Linked DNA regions of Homo sapiens. The protein of the gene in region 2 interacts with the protein of the main gene of each other region in a pairwise test. Each region holds a gene or a part of one and is shown on either strand. Other genes may lie near its edges.

Region 1 (7,289 bases), on a different chromosome or scaffold from region 2:
TTTGCTGTTGCAAACACTGCTGCACTGGATACTGAGATTTGTTTGTTTTCTTTCTCTTTCAGGATGAGAGGGCCTTACCAAAAGGAGATTTCTTCCCTCCTGAGCGTCCACAACAACTTCCCCGTAAGTGTTTCAGTGATTAGGGCTGAGAGTTTGAATTGGAGTTACACTAATAAACAGAAAATTACCATATGGTTTCACTTGAACCTGTGCCAGGTTAGCCCTCAGTTCTCTTGGCCAGTTCTTTTCTATAGATTTTTCAGGGTGAGAAATGAGCAGAGATTCACAACTTGAGGATATTGTTAGGATTACCTCATGGTAATCCTAGGATTGTAATACCAGGATGTAGAGGATGTGGTTAGGCATTTTGAAAGTGTCCTGGGGAAGGAAGAATCAGAACCTGTGAAGGGAATGAAAACCAGGCTGCACTCTAATTCAGAAGATACTGGTTAGTCCCATGTGGGCTAGCAGTGCACACTAGACATCTGCACAGAAATTCGCACGCAGATGTTTGCAGCAGGATGAAAGACACATGCTGCAGTGTGGATGAACCTCGATTTCATCTACAGGAAATGCTCCGCATAGATAAATGCATAAAGGCAGAAAGTAGATTAGTGGTTGCCTGAGGCCGGGAAGGAGTAAGTAGGGACGGGACTGCTAATAAGGTTGGATTTCTTTTTTGGGTGATGAAAATGTTCTGGAATTAAATGGTAGTGATAGTTGCATATCTCTGAATATACTAAAAACCACCGAATACTTTGAGTTTTATGGTATGTGAAGTGTCTTGAACAAATAATTTGTATGCAGAGGGGAAAGGGATCAGCTATTTGTGACACCCAGGTGAAAATCTGTCTCGTGACAGGGAAGGCTAGTTGATGGGCTACCACATAGGTAGAAGTGGCAAATATTAGTGCAGAGTCATAGATAAGCCAGAGGCTGGAAGCAAGAACCTCAGTGCATACAGCGGTGGGACGACTCAGGGAATCACTGGCGCAGGTAAAGCTCTCCTGGAGAAGAAAGATGGATGAGGGTGAGAGGCCTGTGTGTGCTGTGCTGGGGTGACCTCCACCAGGCGGGTTGAGGGGGCCTGGTCTGGAGCAGCAGCTCAAGCTCAGGGCCCTACTCACTGAGTTGGATGGGAGCCCAGGCCAGAGCACCTTTGCAGCGTAGCATTATGGCAGCATGACAGATGTATCTTGAAGGGAAATCTGTGGCTTCATGAGAAGGCTCATCTGTTGAAAGGCAACATTAGTTAGAGAAGGATTGCATTTCCTGGACATAACATACTCATTTCCCAAATAAATTGTCAGTGTGCTCACCTGAGCAGTGGTCACCCTGGACCATGGCGATGGCTCTTGTTGACTCTTGTGCTGGAGCAGGAGGAGGAGCACACTGCTCCAGGGAGCCTGTTATCCATGGCTCTTGGTCTCCCGGCCATTTCGGAGGCTTGACTTCAAAGCCTTCAGTGCTTTGGGAGAGTAAGTCACCGTGGCGATCTCTTGCTGCTGTTGCTATGCAATTAAAGATGGAATGTTCATCAGATGAAACGCCTGGGAAGTGGTGGCAGGTTTTATTTACTTTTTAAATGAACTTTGTTTGCTTTCTTTCCTTCCTTTCTTCCTTTTTCTTTCTTTTTGATGGAGTCTCGCTCTGTCGCCCAGGCTGGAGTGCAGTGGTGCGGTCTTGGCTTGCTGCAACCTCCATTTCCTGGGTTCTAGTGATTCTCCTGTCAGCCTTCCAAGTAGCAGCGATTACAGGCATGTGCCACCATGCCAGGCTAATTTTTTTTTTTTTTTAGTAGAGATGGGGTTTTGCCATGTTGGCCAGGATGGTCTCGAACTCCTGACCTCACGTGATCCACCCGCCTTGGCCTCCCAAAGTGCTGGGATTTCAGGCGTGAGCCACTGCGCCTGCCCTTGTTACGATTTTTAAAAGCTTACCTGGTTGTAGTTTAAGCCTCAGATGGTGGTTACCCCAGATATTGCAAGTGTCAGCTCTTTTGGCTGTTTCCAGAGACCAGCCTGTATTTCTGTGTCCCTGTCTGTGTTGGTAGGGCATGGAGTTGAGTGTGGGCTGGGTATCCAGTTGTGGGTTGGGAAGCTTTGGGGGAAGGAAGATAGGTTCTTTGAATACATACATTAGCTTCATTGTTACTAAAACCACCCAGATTCAGAGAGTAGTGGACACCCAGGATGTTGATTGGCTGGTTTGTAACGTGTTTTTTCATGAGAAACATCCTTTGGGCTACTAGGGATTGGGCACATTTGTGCTGCTTGCCACCTGATGTCTTGAGTCACCTTTTTTGATCAGACAGTTCTCAGTCCATGGGTTAGTGAAACAAATAGGCTCTCAAGAATCTTAGTGTGGGGGTTGTTAACTTTCCCGTGTTGGTTTTCAGCCGCCTTTGTTGTATACACACATATCCCAAACGCCGGAACAAGGCTCTGTTTCCAAGTGTGCCGATGTTGAATTTTGCATTGGGCCCTGAGGTCACTGGTGGGTGGGGGTGGGTAGGCTGAAGTGGATAGCTGCAACTCACTAAACACTCTTTTCCTTTGAGGGTCAAGGTTTGCTAAATAGGGGAAAACTAAGCTTCTTTCTCTTTTCTTTCCAGATGGCCTTGGTGGTATTGGCATGGGGTTAGGACCAGGAGGGCAACCCATTGATGCCAATCACCTGAATAAAGGCATCGGAATGGGAAACATAGGTCCCGCAGGTGAGAATGACAGTGCACCTTGCTTGGTGGTTTGGGGAAGTGAAAATTATTAATTATTGGGACAACTGGACTTTGAGTAGTTTAAATGGAATAAATATTTAACTGGGACAAAATTCCCTCCTTATTCATCTCTGCCTCATTTTGAATAAAGGCAGTATTTTGTATTTTTATCAAGTTGAGTCATTTTTTAAAAAGTCATTATGCTTTTTCATTGTAACCTGACAACAACCTTCTAAGCTGAAATAGTTGTGCCATTTGATAAGAGGAGGCAAGCCAGAGAGTTGATCTTGCTCAAGGTCACACTGTCAGTTACTGACAGGCTGCAGGTCTCCTGACCACGGGACCATAGCACTGCCGCAGTGCCCTGAAAAGTGTCTTACCAAGACCCCTTTGGGCCCTCCTGGTGTTTGCACAGCTGCTGCTAGAGAGCTAGGGGCATTGATAGATGCAAAAAAGGTGGAGAGGCCAGGCACGGTGGCTCACGCCTGTAATCCCAGCACTTTGGGAGGCCGAGGTGGGCGGATCACAAGGTCAGGAGTTTGAGACCATCCTGGCCAACATGGTGAAACCCCATCTCTACTAAAAATAAAACAATTAGCCGGGCGTGGTGGCGCACGCCTGTAATCCCAGTTACTCAAGAGGCTGAGGCAGGAGAATTGCTTGAACCCGGGAGGCGGAGGTTGCAGTGAGCTGAGATCACATGACTGCACTTCAGCCTGGCAACAGAGCGAGAGTCCGTCTCCAGAAAAAAAAAAAAAAAAAAAACCTGCATGAAAGCTTTGATGTGTAGAATAAACTCAGGCTTTGCTGTTTAGCATTTTCATTGCTGTGTAATGATGTATTTTGATTCTATTAAGGAATATGTCATTTTTATGACCTTAGACTTTGGTCTTTGTTGGAATCCTTTGAAATTGGAATATGGAAGCCCCTCTATCCCACCATTGTCAGTGTTGCATATCCCTAGACTCTCTTCCAGAGTCACCCTGGGGCTGACTTAAATTCTGGGCCACAACTTCAAATGGCTGTTAACGTTTCCCCCGACCCAAAACACACACACCCCATGTCTGACATCTAAACAGAAAGACTGGGGGTTGGGGAGGAAGTCTTGGTGTTTTTAGGAACTGGTTTTTATTTTGAAGATTTTACCTTTAACAGGGATTGATTTATTGAGACGGAATTTTGCTCTTGTTGCCCAGGCTGGAGTGCAGTGGCTCAATCTCAGCTTACCGCACTCAATCTCTGCCTCCTGGGTTCAAGTGATTCTCCTGCCTCAGCCTCCCAAGTAGCTGGGATTACAGGCATGTGCCACCACACCCAGCTAATTTTTTGTATTTAGTAGAGACAGGGTTTCACCATGTTGGTCAGGCCGGGCTGGAACTCCTGACCTCAGGTGATCCACCCGCCTCGGCTTCCTGAAGTGCTGGGATTACAGGCGTGAGTCACCACGCCCACCCTTAACAGGGATTCTTAAAAAAAATCTACTTCTGTTCCCTAAAATTTTCTAAAAAGTTTATGTTCCATAGAATGTGTCTTATAATTCTATTTCATGTTTAATACTGCCTAACTTGAGGCCTGGTGTGGTGGCTTATGCCTGTAATCCCAGCAATTTGGAGGCCGAGGGTTTGAGACTAGTCTAGGCGACATAGACTCCATCTCTACAAAATATAAAAAAAATCAGCCAGGTGTGGTGGCGTAGTCCCAGCTACTTGGGAGGCTGAGGCAAGAGGATCACTTGAGCCTGGGATGTTGAGGCTGTAGGGAGCTGTGACCATGCCACTGCATTCCAGCCCCAGTGACAGAAGGAGACCCTGTCTCAAAAACAAAAAAAACACAAAAACCCTGCCCGACTGGGTCATTAAAGTATGTAGATCCCTCAGAAAAAGATTAGCCAGGCGTGGTAGCAGGCGCCTGTAATCTCAGCTAGTCGGGAGGCTGAGGCAGGAGAATTGCTTGAACCCGGGAGGTGGAGGTTGCAGTGAGCCAAGATTGTGCCATTGCATTCCAGCCTGGGTGACAGAGCAATACTGTGTTTAAAAAAAAAAAAAATAGCTATATGATATTTGACAGTTGAAATGGTAAGGGCTTTTTTTCTTGCTGATTAAAATATATAAAATATACTTGTCATCAGGGATTTTCTTTTGAGTTCTTTTGCTGGTTTGGAATTATGCTTTTTAAGTTCAAACGTTATTTACTGCTTTGACATAATTTTAGTTTGCATTGACTTTTTCTTTTTAAGGAATGGGAATGGAAGGCATAGGATTTGGAATAAATAAAATGGGAGGTAAGAAATTTAAAATGAAGTACAAGCATAATCACTTTTAGGCATAGTTTTCTCTCTTTCCTCTTTTCTTTCTTGTTTAAACCCTGCATGAAATTCTCTTTGGTTTCAGTTTGAGTCTAGAAATGACTTCCTCCTGCCTGTCCATCCTTCCAGCGGGTGTCTTGGCTTTTGGTTCTGGCTGTCTCACTAACTAGCTCTGTGACCTTGGGCAGACCACTCCATCTCTATGCCTCTTTTTGCTTGTCTATTCATTGAGGGGGTTGGATCAGACCAGCTTTTTGAAGATGGGTGATTTTTAAACAAGGGTGCTAGCATTTTTTTTGTTTTTCAAAAGCCTTTAAACTTGGTAAGTTCTTGGCAGAAGATACCCCAGTTGAAACATGTGATAGAATTTTTCTTTCCCTGCTTAGTCTAAGCAGTCTTGTTGGATGATGCTGAAATGTGAACCTCTCTTGCAGGAATGGAGGGGCCCTTTGGTGGTGGTATGGAAAACATGGGTCGATTTGGATCTGGGATGAACATGGGCAGGATAAATGGTAAGCATCGTGTTTTCTTCCTGCTTTCACTCACCCTTTGCCGGCTGTTGCCTCTCAGGTGACTTTTAGGCTGCAGACCCACTGAATAAGTGGTTTCTCACTTCTGCTTTTCAACCGAATCAAATGTCTTTTGAATTGCCTTAAATATTTCAAAAACTAGACATAATAGTAGACTTACTTCACTTGGTCGCTAGTCTTTTGAGATGTCCTGTGTTCCCAAGCTCTGCAGTAATTTTCGAGTACAGTGTTAAAAAGCATGTACACGTTCGTGGTTATGGTCTCCGAGTATGAGGGATTCTTTAAAGTTTGTAATCAAGTTTGTCTCTGGGAGTGCTGCAAAGGGTTGTTCTTGGTCATCTGCCCCAGCTACAAGTTGTCTATAGAGGCGTTAATAAAAATCACAGGCTCTTTTAATTTAGCATTTACATAATGCAAATTCTGGTTTAGTATAATTCAAATCCTCCACCAACTTTTTTTTTTTTTTTTTTGAGACAGGGTCTCACTCTGTCACCTAGGCTGGAGTGCAATGGTGCGATCTTGGCTCACTGCAACCTCCGCCTCCCAGGTTCAAGTGATTCTCCTGCCCCAGCCTCCTGAGTAGCTGGTATTACAGGTGTGTGCCACCATGCCTGGATAATTTTTATATGTTTAGTAGAGTCGGAGTTTCACCATGTTGGCCAGGCTGGCCTCGAACTCCTGACTTCATGTGATCCGCCCGCCTCAGCCTCCCAAAGTGCTGGGATTACAGGCGTGAGCCACCGTGCTCGGCACCTGCCCCCAACTTTTTAGCAGAAATATAATAATATAATAACAATGTAGTATTTCATTTAGTCCTTGTGAGAACCACATGATATGTACATACTGCTATCCTTGTTTCATCTGAAACTGAGGCACAGAGAGTGACATGCCTAGGTCAAGTGACTGGTAAACAGTGGTGCCTGCATGTGAACCCAGGCTGTCTGGCTCCAGAGCCTGGCACTTCATCATGTGGGAATCCTGCCTTTTAGAAGTGCCTCCAGCACAGCACTTGGCCCAGGGCACCAGCAGGGCTGTAGAGTGTGCATGAGAAATTGTAAATTTTCCTTTTTGAAATCCTTTATGTGTTGGTGACTCTTTGACCTTCCCCTTCACTGCAGGAAAGCTGCTGCTTTTTTACACAGAAACTTTCTTGGACTGAGAAGTCATTAGGGATTTAGGTATAAACCTTCCTTTGCGGGTCTGCCATAACAAAGGATGTGAAAATGGTACAAGGACAGACATCATTGTCAGGCTTGAAAGGCGGCTGTCCCTGATGATCAGGCCCTTCTTCCGGTGCACAGGGAGCAGTGGGGCATGATGTGTGTTGCCCTCTTCATGGGTGCCTTGTTCTAGAAGCTGGTAAAAGGATGTAGGAAAGTTGTCACCATTAGTAATAAAGCAACAGAGGTCTGCGTTTCCAGTGTACATTCAAGCTTGCCTGTAACTTGTGTGTGCATGGGATTTTAATTTTTAAAAAAAGTTTCAGAAATCTGGCTTGGTAAAATGTTACTCAGAGCAGATTAGTCTGGGTGTGCTGGCTCACGCCTGTAATCCCAACACTTTGGGAGGCTGGGGTAAGAGGATTGCTTGAGCTCAGGAGTTCAAGATCAGCCTAGGCAACACTGCGAAACCCCATCTCTCTCTTTTTTTTTTTTTTTTTTTTTTTTAAGAACAGATTAGTCATTAGGGAATTTGAGTTGTTGCTGTGAGGAGTAGAGTGATGCAGTTTAGAAGTAGA
Region 2 (7,763 bases):
CATGAAAAAAAGGCAAACAAACCTGGCTAAACGTCGGTTTATTGTGCAACCGAGAGCACCTGTCTCCATGACGACATGCTCCAATTTTGAAATAAAATGAACAGTTGACTCTGTAAGGGAAAATGAGAGCTGATTATTTTGCTGGGAAGATATCAAACACATGGAATATGTCAGCAGCATGACATACACTATCAAATTACTTTTAACCTCACAGAAACATGACACAGACTTTTTTCCGTGGTATTAAGCACCTCCTCTTCCTTGCTGTATTTTAGGACAACGTAACTTCAACTTCCCTTTCTGCAAACACACTACTTGTTCAGCAAAGACGGTTCTAACTCTAACCCGCCTCCTCCTCATTCAAATCCCCTCCACTTTCCTAACTGCACAGCTGTTCTGTTTGTTTCTTAAATGGAGTATTAAATTAGTCTAAAACTAAATGTAACTTAGGCAGTATCTGTTCTCCAGTTCTCCACGACCAAGTTCTCTCTTGAAAACACCGGTGTGGTGAGGGTTAAGATCCCAACTCTGCTACCAGCTGCTTGGGCTTGGGCAAGTCACCCTAGCTCTCAGATGTCATCTGTAAATGATGACAATGCCAATGTGGCACTGTTCTGAGAGTCAGACAGAACGTATGTGTGCTTCACATATGGTGCTCATGAAGTGCTATCATTATCTAAGGAAAACAGAAAACGAAGTTCAGAGTCTCTCTAAACGCATGACACCAGACCAACAGGGAGTTTCAAAAAATAGGTCTGAAGTAAATCAATTCTCCTGGTCTCAATACACTGAAAACAAACTATTAGGGGACTGACCGAACCCACCTTAGGAACCACCTTACGTCACCTTCTGTCTCTACTGCAAAACCCTCCCTTAATACTGTTCAAATACGCTGACAATCCAGATCCATATCCAATGGAACCAGCAATCATGCCTGTGTGCCAGCAATGTCAGGGAGGGAAGCCGATCTCTGATGAATTAGGACATCTTACCAGACAGACTTTGTTCAAAATTCAATTTTTTTTTAACCAAGTGCCATTATGTTTTAAACAGTCAATCCAGAGTTAAGATTGAAGGGCCTCAACCTCAGTGAAATCTAATGGACCATGAAGACTGACTAGCCACTGATTTATTATCAGGTAGCAATAAAGATGGGAAAGTCCAAATTTATCAGGAGAGGAAAGTGATTATATATATTTGCAAACTTACAGGTCTTGAGATTATTTAACTTGATTAGACAATAGCATATCTTTAGGAAGTCATCTAAAAATAAAGAAAGCTTATTTAAAAACTACCTCAGAATGGGCAAGCCCTGGGCCTCAACAATTAATATCCAATTATTCCACACAATTAAACTACAGACAAGCTATTAGGATATCCCTGAATCTAGAAAACATCTATAACTTCAAACATATAATAAGCTAAACATTTTTTAATTGGTAGAGATCTATATTTTATTCTTAGCTTAAATAATAATTAAAGTTAATATGAACCATCAGCTTCATTTTTCAGGAGTTGATCCTGTTCCCTGGAAGCTAAAACCCCACGTCTCCCTGAAAAGAAAACACAAGTAACCTAGATTAAATAATCAACTTTTCTGAATTAAAACCATGACCTTTATAGTATAGCCCAATAGATTGAAATGTGGTTGCTTATAGCAGAAATATAGGGAGATAGACTTTTACAAGACAGAAGTCATGCCACATGCAAATATGAAAAGGAGAAATTAATGATGCCCCGATCCTACATGTGTTAGTTCTTCACCCTAAACTCAGAAGAGTCTCTTGTTCCGATAGAGCTGGTCTATTCATTCGCCAAGATCATACCGTGAGTTCCTTAAGGATAATATCCAAATTTTACCCATGTTTAAGTCTCCAGAAACTGACCTATAGTTGACCCCCACTAAATGTTTCTGGAGTGACTATAACTGGTAGATTTTGGCTTAAAATTTTGCTAGAAATATAGCCTCCTCATCCAAACAACACAGGAGATTCTACCATGTGTGAAGAGGACATTTTACAAGATAGACTCCATCCTGGAAAAGAGAAACATTTTAAATAGCGTTTGAAAAAAGTGGCATTAAAAACATCTATGACAAACTTAGGGGTTTATCATTGAAAACATAAAGTCATGTTAACTTTGTATGGCACTGAAGAATGCCAAGATAACTAAAGAGTAGATTAAGCCAGATGCTGAGTCTTTAGGTTTTCAAAGTAAGAATTATCCTTCAAACGTCTGAAAACATTCCATTTAGTCTAAACTACAGCCAACTCACTGGAAATTAGTACGTGCCAAGGTGGCAATTAAAGCTGAAATTAAATGTTTTGCTTTTAACCTAACGATTGATTAGGGAAGGCATGCAACCTTAAGGAAAAAATCAAAACATCTTTTTCCTTATATCAGAATTGTGTCTTCAAGAACAGTCACCGACTTACAAATTTTCAACTTAGATGATGGGTTTATCGGGGTATTAAAGGCATTTTCGATTCATGATGGGTTTATCGGAACGCAATCCCATGGTAAATCCAGGAGCACCTGTATGTTAAGAGCGGATCACGTCTCTTGTGGTTAGATAGTTAATCCAGTAGTCTCCACCATACTTTTTCTCGTCATATCTCCTTACTGCCGGCCCAGCGGTCGCTTAAACAGGCAAGAGGCTGGCTAAGTGGATAAAACACCAACGCTTAGGACCCTAAGTTAGATAAGCGACTGAATACTGGCGAGGCTGGTACCAGAGCTTGCTCGACAGGACATTCACAGCCGAAAGTTGGAACAAACGTGTCCACGTCCAAAAGGCCCGGATGCTCCAGGCAACTTTCAGCGCGGCTCGAGGCGGCTTCCGGGAGTCGGCGACTCGGAGGCCCGGACGTCGGGCGATCAGCCAGTCCGGACCCCAAGGCCGGAGAAAGCTCGGCCGCGGCGCCCCGAAAAGAGACCCCATTCATTCTGCCCGCTCCAGTTTTCCGCCGCGCGGCCCACGAGGCGGCGGCTCCGGAGGGCGCGCAAGGGGCCGGAAGGGCCACCGCTCCTTCCCGCCGCGCGCCCCTCCCCCGCCACCGCCGCGCCGGCCCGCCTGGGCCTCCCCGGTCGCCCTCCCACCGCCTCAACCACCCTGCGCCCCGATCGCGCCCAACCCCCGGCGGGGGGCTCCCACTCACTTGTCTTTCTCGGTGCCGAAGATGGAGGCCAGATACTCCGCCATTTCCCACCCGCCGCCGCCGCTGCCGTCGACACTGCTGCCGACGCCGCCGACCCTGCCGACGCCCTCGGGAGACGTCACCCGGACGCGACGACGCTCTTCCCCGCCCCGACGTGGCAGCGCTACCCAGTCAGGCGAGGTGCTGCCTGCGCGTGGGCGGGACGCATGCGCGTAGGGAGCACGTAGTGCGCGTGGGAGGCTCCGCCTTTTCGGTCCTGGGAACCCGCGCCCCCTGCCGGTGCCCTCCCCGCCCGGCCCTAGCTCTCTCGCCTTCTCGCCCGCCCGGCGCTGGCCCTGCTGGATCCTGCGCGCCGGGGACTGGGGGCTGGCAGTGCAGACCGAACCCGGGGCCGAGGGGCTTCTCCACAGAGCCGCCTGGGGCTCGGTGGGGGGCGCTCAGCTCGACCCCAGCTAAGGGAGCACTAGGAAGTGCGGGCGTCCCCTTCCCTGCACCCTTGCGGGGCGGGAACCGTCGACCTAGAAGAAAAAAAAAGCTGAGGCAAACTTGATATAAGTAGAGAGGTTATTTGGGCCAAGTTTGAAGATTGCAACCCGGGAGCATAGCTTCAAGTTGCCCTGAACATAGGATTTGCAACAGTGACAAGTGGGTTTATAAAGCTTAAGAGGGGGGCAGTTCTTAAATAGCTCACCAAGAATTTACATGAAAATAACAAGCTATTAATTGGCTGTACGTTGTTCTTTATATCATAATTCCAGGAAAGGAAGTTCATGGGTGAAGGCAGCGGGTCCGGAGCAATAGTGCCTTTAAACAATTGCCAGGCATGGGTGGGGACCGCTGAAGCCGCATAGACCTGTCTCTCCGGGCCGGATTAACCTCGCACGCCTCACATAGCTCGGACGCTCTGTGTTGTTTTTCTCTTCTCACACCCCTCTCCGCTTTACCCTCCCTCAGCGCTTGCCAGGTGCGACCTCCCCGGGGCCCTGCACTCTTGCAGTTGCCTGGCCAAGGCCACCCACAGGTGGAGCTGGAAGGCCAGTGACCTGCCTCTGGGATACCCTTTCAGTCTCCTCATGTCACAAGGCTGGAACCATTCCGTTGGAAGGGTTCTATTCCTCTCCTGCGTTTTAACCCCATCAAGCAGCCATTTTCATCTGGTTTCCCACATTCATCAACTCACCTGCGATTTACCTAATTTCCAACGCAACTATCAACTCTGATTAGGTAGAAGTCAGAGAGACAGGGCCTATTTTACTTACCTCCTCCACAAGATGAGCCCCAGACTGTGGGGCAGGACCATGGGATCCTCTTAGCTCGGCTAGAGCTGAATGCTGAGCTCTAGTGTTTGGGCGGATTTGCGTGTTAGAATTGCATTTCTCTTGGCAACAGAGCATCTTCCTACCTGGGAAAGATGAGCAAACTGGAAACCTGTATTAGAAACAGTAGGGCCTCAGAGGTTTAAACCAAAAAGTATCTTGAGACAGGGCTCAATCAATTTAGAAGTTTATTTTGCCAAGGTTAAGGACAATGCCTGGGAGGAAAAAAAACACGGTATCACAGAAACAGTCTGTGGTCTGTGCCTTTCTCCAAAGATGACTTTGAGGGCTTCAGTATTTAAAGGGGAAAAGTGGGCTGGAGGGGAAAGCGGAACAGTGTGGTAATCCACACGTTGCAAGAGAAAAGAAGCAGGTTGGGAACAGTCGACTGTGTACAGCTCACTCCTCAGCAAATCAGCACTTTACATAAGAGAAGCGGATGTTGAACCTTCTATCTGTAGCCGTCTGCTTAGGAACGAAAGGAAAGGCAGCTGCTTACATGACTCAGCTTTCAGCTCATTCTTTTCCTTTTGACAGAGTGAACTGGGGTCCTGACTTTTGTGTTCCTTTCGCAGAGGTGAGGCCAGAGAAGTGACAAGACAGATGCCAGTCCAGCAGGTGGGCATGTCCAGAAAGTGCAGCCTCAGGACACGGTCTGGGAACAAAGACTGCTGGAGAGTTGGAAGCTGGCAAGAGGCTCTCAGCTGTGAAGTACCTGGGGTGGGGGAGAAGTGGTCGGAGAAAGCAGAGGTAAGGTCTGTGCGTGGGAACTGAACTGAAATCCACAGCTCTATTACAAGGAATTAATCTGGTTACTAGAACCAGGGTAGATGATCAGACCAGGCAGGGCCACCAGTACCATCCACCCATTTTTCCTGAGAAAAGAAAAATAGGGTAGTCTGAGCTCTGTGAGGTGTGCAGAATGATCAGGCCCAGAGAGGCAGGAGTGTGGGACTTCATTCAGCGCCTCTTCCACCATAGAAGCAACTGTCCAGGGCAATTGTTTGATGGAATTTTTGCTCCTGACAGGCTGCCTCACCCATTATCTTCTTGTTCACATGGAATTAGTGATGCTAAGAACGATGCATAGCCAATCAGCACCTTCTGTTATTTTAATGCAAATTCTTGCTAACAACTTAGGGACTGCCTCTTCCTTTTCCTTAAAACCCCACTGTGACTGCTGCTAATGGGAACATATGTTCAGGGCAACCTAGGGGCATGTGCCCAGGGAGCCATCCTCAAGCTTTGGGCTCAAATAAACTCTATACTTAATCATATTTCCTGAATTTCATTATTTGAGGTTGACATTTTGGCAACCCAGATAGGACCTGAAGCAGGCCTTCAGGGATTGCCACTAAGTAGTGGCATCAATAGTTGGAGCCTTGGTACCAGCACAAACGACTGTTGTTTACTCGACCTCACTGGGGCTGGCAGGGGTCTCTGGTAAGGCCAGTCTTGGGATCTGAATCCTCCCAGCTTAGTTGAAGATTGAGACTTACACACTAATAATTTGATAGGGTTAGAACTGAAGCTCCACTGAAAGGTAGGAGTTTCCATTTTTATTCTCTAGAGATTCTGTTGACTGCAGATTTGTGATTTTCACTTCTGTCTGAGGTTTTGCTTGTCTTTTTACAGTTTGCAGCCTTTTCTCTCATTCGAAATTTGGTCAAGGAGAAAGTGTCATCTTTAAAACTGGCCATATTCTGAAACTTGGTTCAACTGACAAATCTAAACATTCTTCTTCTTCTTCTTTTTTTTTTTTTTTTTTTTTTTTTTGAGACAGAGTCTCGCTCTGTCGCCCAGGCTGGAGTGCAGTGGCATGATCTCGGCTCACTGCAACCTCTGCCTCCTCAGTTCAGGCAGTTCTCTGCCTCAGCCTTCTAAGTAGCTGGGATTAGAGGCGCCTGCCACCATGCCCTGCTAATTTTTTGTATTTTTAGTAGAGTTGGGGTTTCACCATCTTGGCCAAGCTGATCTTGAACTCCTGACCTCGTGATCCCCCTGCCTCGGCCTTCCAAAGTGCTGGGATTACAGGCGTGAGTCACCGCGCTTGGCCATTTTCTTCTTTAGTGACCAAAATTCCTCCCCTTAGGCATTTTTGGTCATTCAGAAGGAAAATCTAAATTATGGACACTTGTGCTTCTAGAGCAGACATGCATCTGCAGAGACGGCAGCTGGATTCGTGGACAATGCTTATGGTGCCACCTTCTGTCAGTATCTAGAAACATGGTCTCACTTAACCCGTGAAGACCCCAGACTATAATAGCTAAAATGGGGCGCCTTTAAAGTAACTAGTTTATGCACTCAATAGGAAAAATCTGCATCTAAAATTTAAAAACTGAGAGAGCTATTTTTCAATGATACTTAGAAGCTTCTAAAAGAAGTTCTGATGAAGTCATTTCTTTGCAAGAAGAAAACAGAAGATTATCTGAAACTATTTCTTTTGTTTGTTTGTTTTGAGACAGAGTCTTGCTCTGTTACCCAGGCTGGAGTGCATTGGCGTGATCTTGGCTCACTGCAACCTCTGCCTCCCAGGTTCAAACGATTCTTCTGAGCTGGGATTACAGGCATCCCCCACCTTGCCTCGCAATTTTTTTTTTTTTTTTTTTGAGACAGAGTTTCATTCTTGTTGCCCAGGCTAGAGTGCAGTGGCACGATCTCAGCTTGTTGCAACCTCCCCCTCCCGGGTTCAAGCGATTCTTCTGCCTCAGCCTCCCAGTAGCTGGGATTACAGACACCCACCACCATGCCTGGCTAATGTTTTGTGTTTTTAGTAGAGACAGGGTTTCACCATGTAGGCCAGGCTGGTCTCGAACTTCTGATCTCAGGTGATCCACCAGCCTTGGCCTCCCAAAGTGCTGGGATTACAGGTGTGAGCCACCACGCCCAGCCATCCACAGTTCTTTTTAAAATTTAGAAGTAGTTTCAGGCTGGGTGAGGTGGCTCACACCTGTAATCCCAGCACTTTGGGAGGCCAAGGTGGGTGGATCACGAGGTCAGGAGTTCAAGACCAGCCTGGCCAAGATGGTGAAACCTCATCTCTATTAAAAATACAAAAATTAGCCGGGCATGGTGGCGGGCGCCTGTAATCCCAGCTACTTGGGAGGCTGAGGCAGAGAATCACATGAAACCCAGGAAGCGGAGGTTGCAGTGAGCCAAGATGGCGCCACTGTACTCCAGCCTGGGTGACAGAGTGAGACTCTGTCTCAAAACAAAAACAAAAACAAACAAACAAAAAGACCATGGAGGCTTTCTCCTGTTTGTTTCCAGCTGCTGCTTCTCCTTCTGC
Region 3 (7,289 bases), on a different chromosome or scaffold from region 2:
GTGGAGCCATCTGAGTCATTTTTCATAGAATTAAAAACCTGAAATAGCTGCTCTTCTGAGCAACTGGTTCAATTCTTATCTTTTTTTTGTTAATAATGTAGTAAATGAGGGAGTAATTTTCCTCTTTGCTTTGTCTGTCAGGGAGCTCAGACGTCATATTTGCAGCTTACCTCCATAGCAACTTTACAGAATGGTAGGACGTACTTTTGGGACTGTCTCCTGACTTAATTTTATATTTCTTTCCTTAATTTTTCTTTTAGCCTGATTTGCTCTTCTATTTATGTCACTCTATCATGTTGAATATTTTCATCAGTTGCCTTGTCTCATTTTTTGGAATGGACCAGTCTTGAGATGACCAGCTAAATAAGCAACTGTTTTTTGATTGTATAGTTGCAAAAGAGGAACAATCAAGCTCCTATTGGGAATTTCTTTTTGCAGAGGAAAGCTGGACTCCCTGAATTTATGGGTTGATTCGTTTGGATAGAATCTTCCGATTTCTGAGATTTCATGTCTCATTCTGCTACATTATTATTCTACATGAGGCAATCAAGCGATTACCAATAGCTATTGAAACTGGGTAGCAGAATGCAAAAATGGCCATAATTTTTCTTCTCCCAGTGTCCACATCCCCTGCAATGTGACTTTGCAGCTCCTTTCACTGAGAGGAATACCCTTGAATCTGTACTGGTCTTGTGACTTGCTATGGCTAATAGAATAGCAGAAGGGATGCTAATTACTTCCAAGCCTAGAAGCCTTGCACAATACTGTGCTCTCTCTTGGAATTCTGCCATCACCATGTGAACAAACCAAGACAGGCCTGCTGGAGGAGGAGAGACCTCATGGAGTAGAGTGATGAGTCAGCTGGGGTCTTTCAAACTCTCCAGCCCCCAGCCAACCCACCAGTCAATCAAAGGCGTATGAGTGAGCCCAATGAGATCAGAAGAACCACCCAGCTGAGCCCAGCCCAATTGCTGATCCACAGGATCAGGAACTAAGTAGCACTTGTTTTAAAGATGCTAAGTTTGGGGATAATTTTCTATGCAGAAGTTAATTGATACACATTAGCTCATTCTCATGCCAATAGCAGCAATAATAACTGATATTCATTATGTTCTGTGTACTGTTCTAAGTGCCTTATAGCCCTCAGAACAATCTTTTCTGGTAAGAATTGCTATTTCTTCATATTGCAGATGGGAAAACTCAGGTTCAGAGAAATTAACTGACTTTCCCAAGGCCACCAGCTCGAAATGGGCAAAACGAGTATTCAAACCTAAGTCCGTCTGACTTCTCTCCCCCATGGGTCAAAGGACATCTGCAATTAACTAATTTCCTAAGGAGAAAGGTGCTGCAGAGCAAAGGTCAAAACCACACTCACCTTTTTTCAGAAGAGGTGGATCGGCTTTGGGTGTACCTGGGGGAAGCCCTGGGATTTGGGGATCGGGACGAGTGACTGGAGGATCGGGTGCTGGCATAGGAGGAGCTGCGGGAACACCCTTTCATGGGTGAGCTCCGGGCTGTGGATGGGACCAAACTGGACTTCTTCACTTCGGCACATTCCAGACACGGTGACTGAAATCCCCTGCAGGTGGGAAAATGTCCATGAGCACCGACTGCCCACTACTCTGGGAGCATCTTGTTTGAATACCTCCCTACCTTGGCCTAGGCTGTGGTGCTCTCATAGAACCCTCTTTGCCCCTTTTCCCATCCTATTCTCTCTGGAAAGACTTCCCAGGCCACATATGTTAGAGGAGTAGAGACAGAAGATACCTTAAAAGTAGACAATTCAGGTTAGCATTTCCTCAAGTGTGAAACACATACCGCTGGGGCCACAGTGGAGTATTTTAGAATGTCATCAGGCATGGGCATGATGGTAAGTAACATCAGATTACATGGTGAGAAATTTATTCCCTGTCTAGTCTTTTTCTGTCCTTCTGATTACATTAATGAGGAAGCCCCCATTGGGTGCTAGTTGGTTTGTAACACCTCTCTAACACTTTGTAATCTCTCTAAGAGAGAGGAGCACACCTCAGACTCAGCCTTGGTTAGGCAACTGCAACTAGTAGGATTAAATCCATTGTTTTAATCATATGTGTTTTTATAGGTACCTTTTATTTAGGACATGTGATTCTTTTTTTGAGACAGAGTCTCACTCTGTTACCCAGGCTGTAGTGCAGTGGCTGACTGCAACCTCTGCCTTCAGGGGTCAAGCAATTCTCCTGCCTCAGCCTCCCGAGTAGCTGAGATTACAGGTGCATGCCACCACACCCAGCCAATTTTTGTATTTTTAGTAGAGATGGGGTTTCACTATGTTGGCCAGACTGGTCTCAAACTCCTGACCTCAAATGATCCACCCGCCTTGGCCTCCCAAAGTGCTGGGATTACAGATGTGAGCCCCTGTGCCCGGCCAAGGACATTTGATTCTAATTTTCTATTTCAGATAGTACTGTAATTTTCCTTTTACTTATATATTAAAAATGAGTTTATTAAAGTAAACAGGAATATCAGTAGTACATGGATATGGTAAAAATCAAGATGACCTGTTGTTGGTTTAGTTTTGGGAAATTTTGATGTAACCCATTTTGCAGTTGGAGGAATTGAGACCTCCCAAAAGACAGAGGCTTCAGGATTATCAGAAGGCTAGAGTGCTGTCTTCTGTACTCCCACCCTGCCTAGGGCCAGGCTGACCTCTGTTAGGTGCTCAGTGAAGGCATATTTATTTGGATTGGGCCAAGAATCAAGTTCAAATCACATTAATATGGTTTTCAAGGCTCACGATGGCCTGGCACCTGCTCACCCCTCCAATCTCAGGTCTTGACTCTTTCCTCTCCTGACTCCAGCTGTCATAGACTACTTATTCCTCCTGAAATATCCCTATTCTCTTCCTTGTCTCCAGGCCTCAGAACATTCTGGCTGTCTGCAAACCCTCTCCATTCCCTCTTCATCTGGCAACTCCTACTTATGATTCTGGCTTTAGCTTGACCTCACCCTTTCTGGAAAACCTTCCTTGACACCCCCGTCCCCTGTCTGGGTTGGGCGACCTCCAGTGTGTTACCACAGACCTTAGTTCTATGTTTTGCCTATCCCTATATGGCTTACTTAGTCTTATACTTGTAGGCTGTCTCTTCTGTCCCAGATATTGAGCTCCCTGGAGACAGCTCCCTGGGGACCTTTTCAATGTTCTGAGAATTTCACAAGCATCATTTCATTCCCAACAACCTTCTGAAGCCGACATCATTATTTATTTATTTTTTGAGACAGTCTCGCTCTGTCGCCAGGCTGGAGTGCAGTGACGTGATCTTGGCTGACTGCAACCTCCGCCTCCCAGGTTCAAGCGATTCTCCTGCCTCAGCCTCCCGAGTGGCTGGGACTGCAGGTGCGCACCACCACACTCAGCTAGTTTTTGCATTTTTAGTAGAAATGGGGTTTCACCATGTTGGCCAGGATGGCTTTGATCTCTTGACCTCGTGATCCACCTGCCTTGGCCTCCCAAAGTGCTGGGATTACAGGCATGAGCCACTGCGCCCAGCTGCCAATGCTATTATTACCCCCAGATTTACAGAGAAGTCTCAGAAGGGTTTGTTATTTCCTCAAAACCACCCAGAGCCCCAAACCTTGATCTGTGCAGCTCCAGAGTCCCCACCCCTCCCACCTCACCAGCTCCCTACCTTCAGTGTCTATGGTTCCTTTGATTTAGAGCTGATGTCTCTTCCACTCAGCCCATATTTATTGAGCCCTCTCTGCTCATAAGTGGCATGACATAAACAGTCATGGACTCAACCATCATTTATATTTCAAAGTGAAAGGCTGGGTCTAAATTACTTAATTTGGCTGTCCATGGAGATCAAATTAAACAGGTAACTGCTAGATGTCTCTCAGGCTTTAGTTCCTGTTTGGGGGACATATTTGTATTTGAATTCTGGTGCTGCCACTTATTAACTGAGTTTCTCAACCACTCTGAGCCTCAGTTTCCCCATCAGGTAAAAAAGGGTTACAAATAGTACTGTCCTATAAAGGTTTTGAGGAGCTCGGGAAGATTATTTCTGGAAAGCATTTGGCAGTGTACCTAGCATGTGATTTGGGCTCAACGAATATGAACTGCCGTTATTATTGTTGTTGTTATTGCTATTTCAATTTTTCCTGCATAATAGCACTGCTGTATATCAGTAAACATGTGTCCTCCTCCTCCCTTCTGGGAACTTCACTGCCTGTTCTTGGAGACACTGACATTGGCTCTGGCCCAGCTCAGGTTCTCAGTCAAGCTTGGGTGTGAGCTGAGGCCAGGGATGACCTGGGGCAGGCAAATGGGAAGGCAGTTCTGCATGTGGATGTCAAGCTGTTTGTCCAGGACTGAAATGGGGTATGTGTTAGGGACAAAGAGTGCTCTGTCTTTGAAGAAGCTGTTAGCTGCTTCAGTGCTAAGGCGTTAGTCATCTTTTGAAAATTTTGGCTATATGGAACAAAGGCAAACTCCCACCCTCAGAAGTAGAAAAACCTCACTGTTAGCATGACAGAGGGCACCAGCAAAGCTTTTCCACCCATCCCGCAACTGTGCATCTGCCTCATTAATTATAAGCTCCTGAGAAAAAGGACTGTTCCATTTTTAAATCCCCAGCACCAGGCTGAGTGTCTGGCAGAGAGGACTTGCCTGATAAACAAGTTGAGGAATAAACAACAGAATGAATGGTACAGACTAAGTGATCAGTAAATTTTAGTAGCTATTATGATGACAGTAACCTCAGTGATTAGCATTTTGTTGTGATTTCTTGAGTGAGAGAGTTAAGCGGATGACGAAGTAGAATTACAACTGGCTCATATGCATCTGTGTGGAAGAGTTTTCTGCAGGAAAACTGCATCTAGTGAGTGTGTTAAGATGGGTAAAAAAATGGAGAAATCTCAATGTTCTCTGATATGTTGATAAATTATACTATGGTATATCTGTATCTATAATTAATAAACTTTATTTTTTAGAGCAGTTTTAGTTTCATAGCATGATTGAATGGAAAGCACAGGGAGCTCCCATATACTTCTTGCTGCTACACACGCACAGCCTTATTCCCCACTATCAGCATCCTCCACCAACGTGGTCCATTTGCTACAATCGATGAACCTCCATTGACACATCATTATCACCCAGAGTCTATAGTTTACATCAGAGTACCCTCTTGGTGTTATACATTCTATGGATTTGGACAAATGTATAATGACAGTTATCCACCATTGTAGTGTCACACAGAGTAGTTCCATTGCCCTAAAAATCCTCTGTGCTCTGCCTATTCATCCCTCTGTCCCCTCACCCTCTGGCAACCACTTATCTTTGTACTTTCTCCATAGTTTTGCCTTTTCCAGAATGTCATACAGTTGGAGCCATGCAGTGTGTGACCTTTTCACATTGGCTTCTTTCACTTAGTAATATGCATTTACATTTCCTCCATGTCTTTTCATAGCGTGGTACCTCATACCTTCCGAGCACTGAATAGCATTCCATTGTCTGGACGTATCATAATTTATGTATTCATTCACGTACTGAAGGATATTCTGGTTGCTTCCAAGTTTTAGCAATTACAAATAAAGCTGTTGTAACATCCAAGTGCAGGTTTTTATGTAGAGATAAGTTTTCAATTCATTTGGGTAAATACTGTGATATGTTCTTTTTTTTTTTTGAGATGGAGTCTGGCTCTGTCACCCAGGCTGGAGTGCACTGGCGCAATCTCGGCTCACTGCAAGCTCCACCTCCCAGGTTTATGCCATTCTCCTGCCTCAGCCTCCCAAGTAGCTGGGACTACAGGCGCCCGCCACTATGCCTGGCTAAATTTTTGTATTTTTAGTAGAGACGGGGTTTCACTGTGTTAGCCAGGATGGTCTCGATCTCCTGACCTCGTGATCCACCCGCCTCGGCCTCCCAAAGTGCTGGGATTACAGGCGTGAGCCACCGCACCTGGCCTGTGATATGTTCTTAAATGACTTACAATTAATTTAATGTTAGACTTTCTTTCATTTTTTTTTTCTTTTGAGATGGAGTTTCACTCTTGTTGCCCAGGCTGGAGTGCAATGGTACAATCTCAGCTCACTGCCACCTCCGCCTCCAGGGTTCAAGCAATTTTCCTGCCTCAGCCTCCCGAGTAGCTGGGATTACAGGCATGTACCACCACACCCGGCTAATTTTGTATTTCTAGTAGAGACAGGGTTTCTCCATGTTGGTCACGCCGGTCTCGAACTCCTGACCTCAGGTGATCCACCCGCCTCGGCCTCCCAAAGTGCTGGGATTACAGGTGTGAGCCACCACGCCTGGTCAATGTTCGACTTCCTTCTAAGATTACTGGTAAAATTGTCATCTGTTTTTTTGCCTGCCTAGCCTCCATCTCTCCTGATACCAATAACCTGGCTTTTCCTGTAGAGGAGTGTGGGAAGGTTCGACTCATTAGCCCTAGTGATGGCATCTGACACATTCTGGCCAACAGCATAGCATCCCCTGGGACAGTGATGGGCAGATGACCTAAGCTGGGCCAAACAGAACCAATAAGCACCTGCCTTGGTGTTTGGCTGAAATCTTTGAGAAAGAAGCATTGTTTTCCTGTTGGCTGGCTAAACCAATAGAATGTTAGCTGCTTGGCATATTTGACAATGCTTTGGGAGGATCTGCTTGAGAATAAGGCCAGTAGGATGAGGAAGCAGAATAAGAGATGTAATGAGAAAGACGGATTTCCAGCAACATATTTTTGAACCCCTGAATCCAGCTGTACCTGAAGCTAGTGCCACTAGTGTTTTAAAACAAGCCAGTCTGAGTTGAGTTTCATCTCTCTTACAAATAAAATAATCTTGGGGGTGGAGTGGGGGAGGCTGGGATGAGAGCATGAGAAGGTGGAGCTAAGGTGGGAGACCGTCTACCCCCGACCCTGTGTGGTGCACTGACCTTGACTCTCTGCCCCTGCTGGTGGGGGAGAGATTCTCCAACATGGCCCCCTTGTTCTGGGGTGAGGAGGTGGTGAAGGAGTTCCCTGAATCAGAGGTGTTGCCACTGTTGAGCTCCCGGCTCTTGCTCAAGCCCCCACTGGGGCTCCCCTTCTCCTGGCCCCGAGACCTGGCTGAGCTGGTTTGCGTGGAGGGTGGCGAGGACGTGTCATTTCCTGAGTCGTACTCCTGGGAACGTCCTCGCGAGGTGGTGAGCGGGCTGGCTGTTTTGGTAAAGAGGTCAGCAGCAGACCCCGACCCAGTGATCTGAAAGCAAAAAGACCCGTTGGACACTGCTGAGCGCTGGGCCCATGGGCTGTTTCTAAATAACCAAGAAATGT
Region 4 (7,289 bases), on a different chromosome or scaffold from region 2:
CCTCAGGAGGCTGAGGCAGGAGAACGGCGTGAACCCGGGAGGCGGAGCTTGCAGTGAGCCGAGATCGTGCCACTGTACTTCCACCGGGGTGACAGAGCGAGACTTTGTCTCAAAAAAAAAAAAAAAAAAATTTTTTTTAAGAATCTTGATCTTTCTCACACTGATACATTATTTTCTTCCCACTTCCTGGAGAACAAGTCTTTTGATCTTAATTACACTTTAAATTTTTTGTTTGTTATAAAAGTATTATGTTCACTGTAGAATAGTTAGAAAATTCTGAAAAGTTTAGAGGAAAATAAAAGTCGTATGTAATCCCAGCACTTACAGATCACTTAACATTTACATATATCATTTGTAGTGAGGCGTGAGCCACTGTGCCCAGCCTACACACAGCTTTTACATAGTTGTATTACTTCTTTTGTTATATAGTGAGTTCTTCTCATATACTAGGACGTTATTTTAAAAGGAAAATAGACATTATTTTAAAAGGAAAATAGAGGCTGGGCATGGTGGCTCATGCCTGTAGTCCCTGCAAGTTGGAAGGCTGAGGCAGGAGGACAGCTTTGAGCCCCGGAGTTCAAGAACAGCCTGGGCAACAGAGTGAGACCCTGTTCCTACAATTTTTTTTTTTTTGAGATGGAGTTTCACTCTTGCTGCCCAGGCTGGAGTGCAATGGCGTGATCTTGGCTCACCGCAACCTCCACCTCCCGAGTTCAAGCAATTCTGCCTCAGCCTCCCGAGTAGCTGGGATTACACACACGCGCCACCATGCCTGGCTAATTTAGTGTTTTCCCATGTTGGTCAGGCTAGTCTCGAACTCTCGACCTCAGGTGATCCACCCGCCTCGGCCTCCCAAAGTGCTGGGATTACAGACATGAGCCACCACGCCCAGCCAAATTTTTTTTTTAATTAGTCACACAAGGTAGCACACGCCTGTGGTCCCAGCTACTAGGGAAGCTGAGGTGGGAGGAACGCTTGAACCTGGGAGGTCAAGGCTGCTATGAACTGTGATCACACCACTGTACTCCAGCCTGGGCAACACAGCAATACCTGGCCTCAAAAGAATGAATGAATGAGAAACAGATGAATAAAAACATAAAACAGCTGAAAATGATGTAATTTCTTTTTGCACGTATTTCAGCACAATTACATTAGCAGAACTAAAACCTTTTAAAACTTAAAATAGGAACTAACATAAAATCTTATCCCATTTTTCTAAATTGATTTGATTTGATTTGAAATGTTTTGGCTCCAACACTTTGGGAGGCTAGAGGTGGGCAGATCACTTGAGTCCAGGAGTTCGAGACCAGCCTGGACAATATGTTGAAATCCCATCTCTACTAAAAATACAAAAACAGCCAGGCATGGTGGCATGTGCCTGTAGTCCCAGCTACTTGAGGGGCTAAAGCTGGAGGATGGCCTGAGTCCAGGAAGTCGAGGCTGCAGTGAGCCGAGATCATGCCACTGCACTCCAGCCTGGGTAACAAAGGGAGACCCTATCTCAAAACAAACAAAAAATATTTTAACAAGTATACTGAATGAATTGTATGGTACGTGAATTGTATCTCAGTAAGGCTATTGAAAAAAAAAAATTAGCCGAGCATAGTCGCATGTGCCTACAGTCCCAGCTACTCAGGTGGCTGAGATGGAAAGATCACTTGGGTCTGGGAGGCTGAGGCTGCAATGAGCCATGATCATGCCACTGCACTCCAGCCTGGGCAACACAGTAAGACCCTGTCCCAAGAAGAAAATAAACAAAAAAAACCAGCTAGGTAGGCACAGTGATTCACATCTGTCATCCTAGTACTTTGGGAGGTCGACGCAGGAGGATCACTTGAGCCTAGGAGTTCAAGACCAGCCTGGGCAACACAGTGAGACCCTGTCTCTCAAAAAACAAAAAACTAGCCAGGCACACTTGTAGTCCTAGCTACTCGGGAGGCTAAGGCAGGGGCATCACTTGAGTCCAGGAGGTTGAGGCTGCAGTAAGCCATGATCACACCACTGCACTCCAGCCTGGGCGACAGAAGGGAGACCCTGTCTCAAAAAACAAAAAAAAAAAAGAAAAGAGTTATAGAACATTCTATAAGGATACTAACATTAATGTAAAAAATAATACACACACATCTCTGTATAATGTGTATAAACAAGATGCCTGGAGAAGAAACAGGTAAGTTAACACTGGTTGAATCTGAGAAGAGGAAGCTAGTTTGGGAAAAGTGTAGGAAAGAAACTTTTTACCATATACTCTTTTGTGAACTTGTGCATGATTACCTATTCAAAAAGTTTTTTAAATCTTATTTTTCAGTATCAATAAAGCATTCTCCATTCTACCTATCCAACCCACAGAGAAAAGACATATCAACTTACCCTCATCATACATTTGACATTAATCATGCATTGCCCTGTGATTTCTATTTATTTTTATTTTGACTCAGGGTTTTGCTCTGTTGCCCAGACTGGAATGCAGCAGTGCAATCGCAGCTCACTGCAGCCTCGACCTCCTGGGTTCAAATGATCCTCCTGCCTCAGCCTCCTGTATAGCTGGGACCACAGGTGTGTGCCACCACAGCCAGCTAATTTTTTTATTTCCAGTAGAGATGAGGTCTCACTATGTTGCCCAGGCTGTTCTTAAACTCCTGGGCTCAAGTGATCCTCCTGCCTCAGCCTCCCAAAGTGTTGGTTAGGATTATAGGCGTGAGCCACTGTGCCCAGCTTGCCCTGTGATTTCTTCTAGTTAACTGACCTTGAATTTTTTTTTTTTTTTTTTGAGACTCAGTTTCACTCTTGTCACTCAGGCTGGAGTACAGTGGCACAATCTCGGCTCACTGCAACCTCCGTCTCTCCAGTTCAAGCGATTCTCCTGCTTCAGCCTCTCCAGTAGCTGGAATTACAGGCGTGCACCACCATGCCCAGCTAATTTTGTATTTTTTAGAAGAGATGGGATTTCACCATGTTGGTCAGGCTGGTCTTGAACTCCTGACCTCAGGTGATCTTCCCGCCTCGGCCTCTCAAAGGGCTGGGATTACAGGCATGAGCTACCACACCCGGCCAAATTTTGATTAAAATATTTTATCAGAAATCTTTTTCACGTTGGCCAGGCGCGGTGGCTCACGCCTGTAATCCCAACACTTTGGGAGTCCGAGGCGGGCGGATCACCTGAGGTCAGGAGTTCAAGACCAGCCTGGCCAACATGGTGAAACTCTGTCTCTACTAAAAATACAAAAATTAGCCAGACGTGGTGGCAGGCACCTGTAATCCCAGCTACTCGGGAGGCTGAGGCAGGAGAAGGGCTTGAGCCCGGGAGGCAGAGGTTGCAGTGAGCCAAGCCAAGACCACGCCACTGCACTCCAGCCTGGGTGACAGAGCGAGACTCCATCCCAAAAAAAAAAAAAGAAATCATCTTTTTCATGTTATGTCAACATATAGTTTGTAAATTCTTTGAAGGCAGAGATGTTTTAGACCACCTATAACATATATGATGGGAACTCAAAATCCTTACAAGGAACCTAAGTGGTTGGTATTACAATTAGGCTTAAAGAAATTCAATAACTTGCTTAAATATCACACAGCTTGGCCAGGTGTGGTGGCTCATGCCTGTAATCCCAGCACTTTGGGAGGCTGAGGTGGGAGGATTGCTCAAAGCCAGGAGTTTGAGGCCAGCCCTGGGCAACACGGGTAGACTCTGTCTCTACAGAAAATTAAAAAATTAATACACAGTTCAGGTGTGGTGGTGTGCCCCTGTAGTCCCACCTACTGGGTGGGAGCAGGGGCTGAGGTGGATCACTTGAGTCCAGAAGACTGAAGCTGCAGTGACCCCTGATTGTGCCACTACACTCCAGCCTGGGAGAAAAAGCGAGACACTGTCTCAAAAAACAAACAAACAAACAAACAAACAAACAAACAAACCACAGCTTGTAAATAGTAGACCAATATGCCAGCTCAAGTGTCTCTGATTTATGCTCAATATTAACTGCCAAAGTCTTGGCACTTCTTTCTTTCACTCTCTCCTCCTCAGCCTCCTTGCTAGCTCTTCTTCCACTCAAACCTGTAAATATTCACTAAGATTCCTTCTTTGGGCGTCTTGTCATTCCACATATATCAAAGGCTAATTCACTTCCCGATTTCAATCAGCGGCAAAGTCTATCAGCATTATCTTTAAAATATATCCAAAATCAAACCCTTCTCACCACGGCAAATGCTACTACTCTAGTCTTTCTTTCATACAGATTATTGTCAAAATTCTTCAGCCCTTGCCTCACTATAGTTTATTCTCAACAAAGTAACAGAGTGATCTTTTGAAAATTTAAGTCAGAACATGTCACTCCTCTAGTCAAACATCATCCATTGGTTTCGTATCTCACTAAGGGTAAAAGGCTGAATCCTATCACCTAAAAGGCCCTGCAGCTTTGCCCTCCCCTACCATTACCTTATTACCATTGCTCACTCTGATAAGCCAAACTGGTCTTGTGCTATTCCTCTAACACTTTGCACATAGCTCATTCCTTCACGTCCTTCAACTCTTTTTGTAAACATCTCCTTGTTAATGACTTCCCCAGTCACTCTATTTAAAATTACAATACCCTTCCCATTGTACTCCCTATTCCTTTCTCCTATTTTTCTCTATGTGCCTTATCAATCACTATTTGACATACCATAAATTTTACTTTTTATTTTGCCTTCCCTCAGTAAAATACAAGCTCTATGAGAGCAAGGATTTTGTCTCTGTTGTTCACTGCTGTATCTTTGGCACCCACAGTAACTGGGACATGGCAGGTGCTCCATATTTTCTGAATAAATCCCAAGTCTTCATCATCAGCTTTCAGCTCTTGAGTGAAAGACCCACATTTCCAACTGACTACCTGACATGTCCAAGTGGATGTCCCACAGACACCTAAGCCTCAAAATGAACTTACCTCTTCTGTGCAAAACTGGCTTCTCCTCCTCCCAACCCAGACTAAAGGTATCACTACCCAAACCCTGGAGTCATCTTTCATTTTTCCCATATCTAACTGATCTATAAATACTTGAAATTCTACTACATCCTAAATGTCTTTCAAATTCATTCCCATTCTTTTGAAGTCTTGACATGCTTATTCACTCAACAAATCGTTATTGAGCACCTACTGTATTATCAAGTATTATCTTGGATACAGGGAAATAATCATGAGCAAAACATAAGAGTCCTTCCCATTCCGAGCTTACAATCTTGCAGAGAACAAACCAATCAATGATCAGATAGCGTTTAGCTGATTTTTTTTTTTTGAGACGGAGTCTCACTCTGTTGCCCAGGCTGGAGTGCAATGGCGCGATCTCGGCTCCTGCAACCTCCGCCTCCTGGGTTCAAGTGATTCTCCTGTCTCAGCCTCCCGAGTAGCTGGGATTACAAGTGCGCGCCACCAGGCCCAGCTACTTTTGGTATTTTTAGTAGAGATGGGGTTTCACCATATTGGTCAGGCTGGTCTCAAACTCCTGACCTCGTGATCTGCCCACCTTGGCCTCCCAAAGTGCTGGGATTACAGGCATGAGCCACCGTGCCCGGCATGTTTAGCTGATTTTTTAAGAACACACAGGGTCTTATGAAATTATATAAAAAGTGGCCTGACCATGTTTGTGGATAGAACATAGAAAGCTTCCTTGGGTAAATAATATTTGAGTGAAACACCTGAAAGGGGTGTAGTAATTAATTAGATAAACGTGTTAGGGAGGAAGGGCAGCCGGAGTACTACAGCCGAAAGAAAACTCCAATTGCAGCATATGTGAAGGTTCTAGGTTGAGGTAAGAGGGAGAAGCAGTGTGCAATGATTAGAACATGAATTTTGGACACAGGCTGCCTGGAATTTTTTTTTTTTTTTTTTTTTTGAGACGGAGTTTCACTTTTGTTGCCCAGGCTGGAGTGCAATGGTGCCATATCGGCTCACCGCAACCTCCACCTACGCGGTTCAAGTGATTCTCCTGCCTCAGCCCCCCGAGTAGCTGGGATTACAGGCATGTGCCATCACGCCCAGCTAATTTTGTATTTTTAATAGTGACGGGGTTTCTCCATGTTGGTCAGGCTGGTCTCGAACTCTCGACCTCAGGTGATCCGCCTGCCTCGGCCTCCCAAAGTACTGGGATTACAAGCGTGAGCCACTGCACCCAGCCTGCTTGGATTTAATATACAACATTTTAGCTGTGCAACCTAAGGCAAGTTACTCAGTTACTCTCTCTGAGCTATGGTTTTTCTTATTTTCAAATGAGGATAATACAGGTATTTACCTTACAGGGTTATTATGAGAATTAAATCAGTTAGTGTATGTAAATGGCTTCAAACAGTGCTTTGCCACATAACAAATGCTAAGTGTTGGCAATTGATGAAGCATTCTGAAGAAATTAAATAAAATAAGGCCACAGTAGTTGAAGAGTTAGTAACTATGCTGGAGAGACGGGCAGGGATATAATTTAAAGGTTTTAAGCAGGGGAATGACTCCTATAATAAATATCTAAGTGGTGAAATCGCTCCCCCTACAAATCCCATCCGCCAAGAGAATACAAGCTGATCACATCAAGCTCCTCCTTTCAAACTTCCAAAGGCTCCCAGCCCTACTTCTTACATGACAAAGGCCAGAAGTCCTTACATAACTTAGAAAGCCCTTTTCAATATCACTCTGATTTACCTTTATAGTTTACCTATTTTCCTTTCCAAACTATCTTCAACTACCAATATATTTCCTCACTTCACTTTTCAATACAAATGTCTCACTATTCTCAACACTCTGACACTACTATCACTTTCTCCTCTCCTCTGCAATAGTTCCTTTTCTAATGTTTGACTGGATATCTGATACTGTTACAGTTCAAGCCATTTTCATCCACAGTTCAATCTCTCTTTCCAAATGTGTTAGTATGGGCCAGGAGTGGTGGCTCATGCCTATAATCCCAGCACTTTGGGAGGCCAAGGCAAGAGGATCACCTGAGGTCAGTCAAGTCCAGCCGGACCAATAACATGGTGAAACCCCATCTCTACTAAAAATACAAAAATTAGCCAGGCATGGTGGCACGTGCCTGTAATCCCAGCTACTCGGGAAGCTGAGGCACGGGAATTGCTTGAACCTGGAAGGCGGAGGTTGCAGCGAGCCGAGATCTTGCCACTGCACTCCAACCTGGGCGACAGAGCGAGACTCCATCTCAATTTAAAAAAAAAAAAAAAAGAATGACTGCATTTCTACAAAATCCTCAGAAATTTGCTGTTGATATGACATTACATATCAACTCAGATACATACTATGTTTCCTTCCTGCTTCAAAAGGTAT

Evidence for each region.
Region 1: the proteins of U2AF1 (region 2) and HNRNPM come close enough for resonance energy transfer, tested with the Homo sapiens proteins (one study listed by BioGRID).
Region 3: the proteins of U2AF1 (region 2) and SRRM4 interact in binary tests that used the Homo sapiens proteins (3 or more experiments, as listed by UniProt).
Region 4: the proteins of U2AF1 (region 2) and SARNP interact in binary tests that used the Homo sapiens proteins (3 or more experiments, as listed by UniProt).

What each region holds. Positions count from the first base shown.
Region 1 is NC_000019.10:8,468,712-8,476,000, forward strand, and holds part of HNRNPM (heterogeneous nuclear ribonucleoprotein M), read left to right. Parts: intron 1-62; coding exon 63-123; intron 124-2,614; coding exon 2,615-2,716; intron 2,717-4,952; coding exon 4,953-4,997; intron 4,998-5,455; coding exon 5,456-5,533; intron 5,534-7,289. UniProt on the Homo sapiens protein: Pre-mRNA binding protein in vivo, binds avidly to poly(G) and poly(U) RNA homopolymers in vitro. Involved in splicing.
Region 2 is NC_000021.9:43,104,293-43,112,055, forward strand, and holds the start of U2AF1 (splicing factor U2AF 35 kDa subunit), read right to left. Parts: upstream 3,279-7,763; 5' UTR 3,203-3,278; coding exon 3,159-3,202; intron 1,554-3,158; exon of another isoform or gene 1,494-1,553; intron 1,264-1,493; exon of another isoform or gene 1,210-1,263; intron 111-1,209; coding exon 23-110; intron 1-22. UniProt on the Homo sapiens protein: Plays a critical role in both constitutive and enhancer-dependent splicing by mediating protein-protein interactions and protein-RNA interactions required for accurate 3'-splice site selection. Recruits U2 snRNP to the branch point.
Region 3 is NC_000012.12:119,145,307-119,152,595, reverse strand, and holds part of SRRM4 (serine/arginine repetitive matrix protein 4), read right to left. Parts: intron 7,216-7,289; coding exon 6,911-7,215; intron 1,871-6,910; exon of another isoform or gene 1,771-1,870; intron 1,586-1,770; exon of another isoform or gene 1,580-1,585; coding exon 1,376-1,579; intron 1-1,375. UniProt on the Homo sapiens protein: Splicing factor specifically required for neural cell differentiation.
Region 4 is NC_000012.12:55,807,703-55,814,991, forward strand, and holds part of SARNP (SAP domain-containing ribonucleoprotein), read right to left. Parts: intron 1-7,289. UniProt on the Homo sapiens protein: Binds both single-stranded and double-stranded DNA with higher affinity for the single-stranded form. Specifically binds to scaffold/matrix attachment region DNA. Also binds single-stranded RNA. Enhances RNA unwinding activity of DDX39A.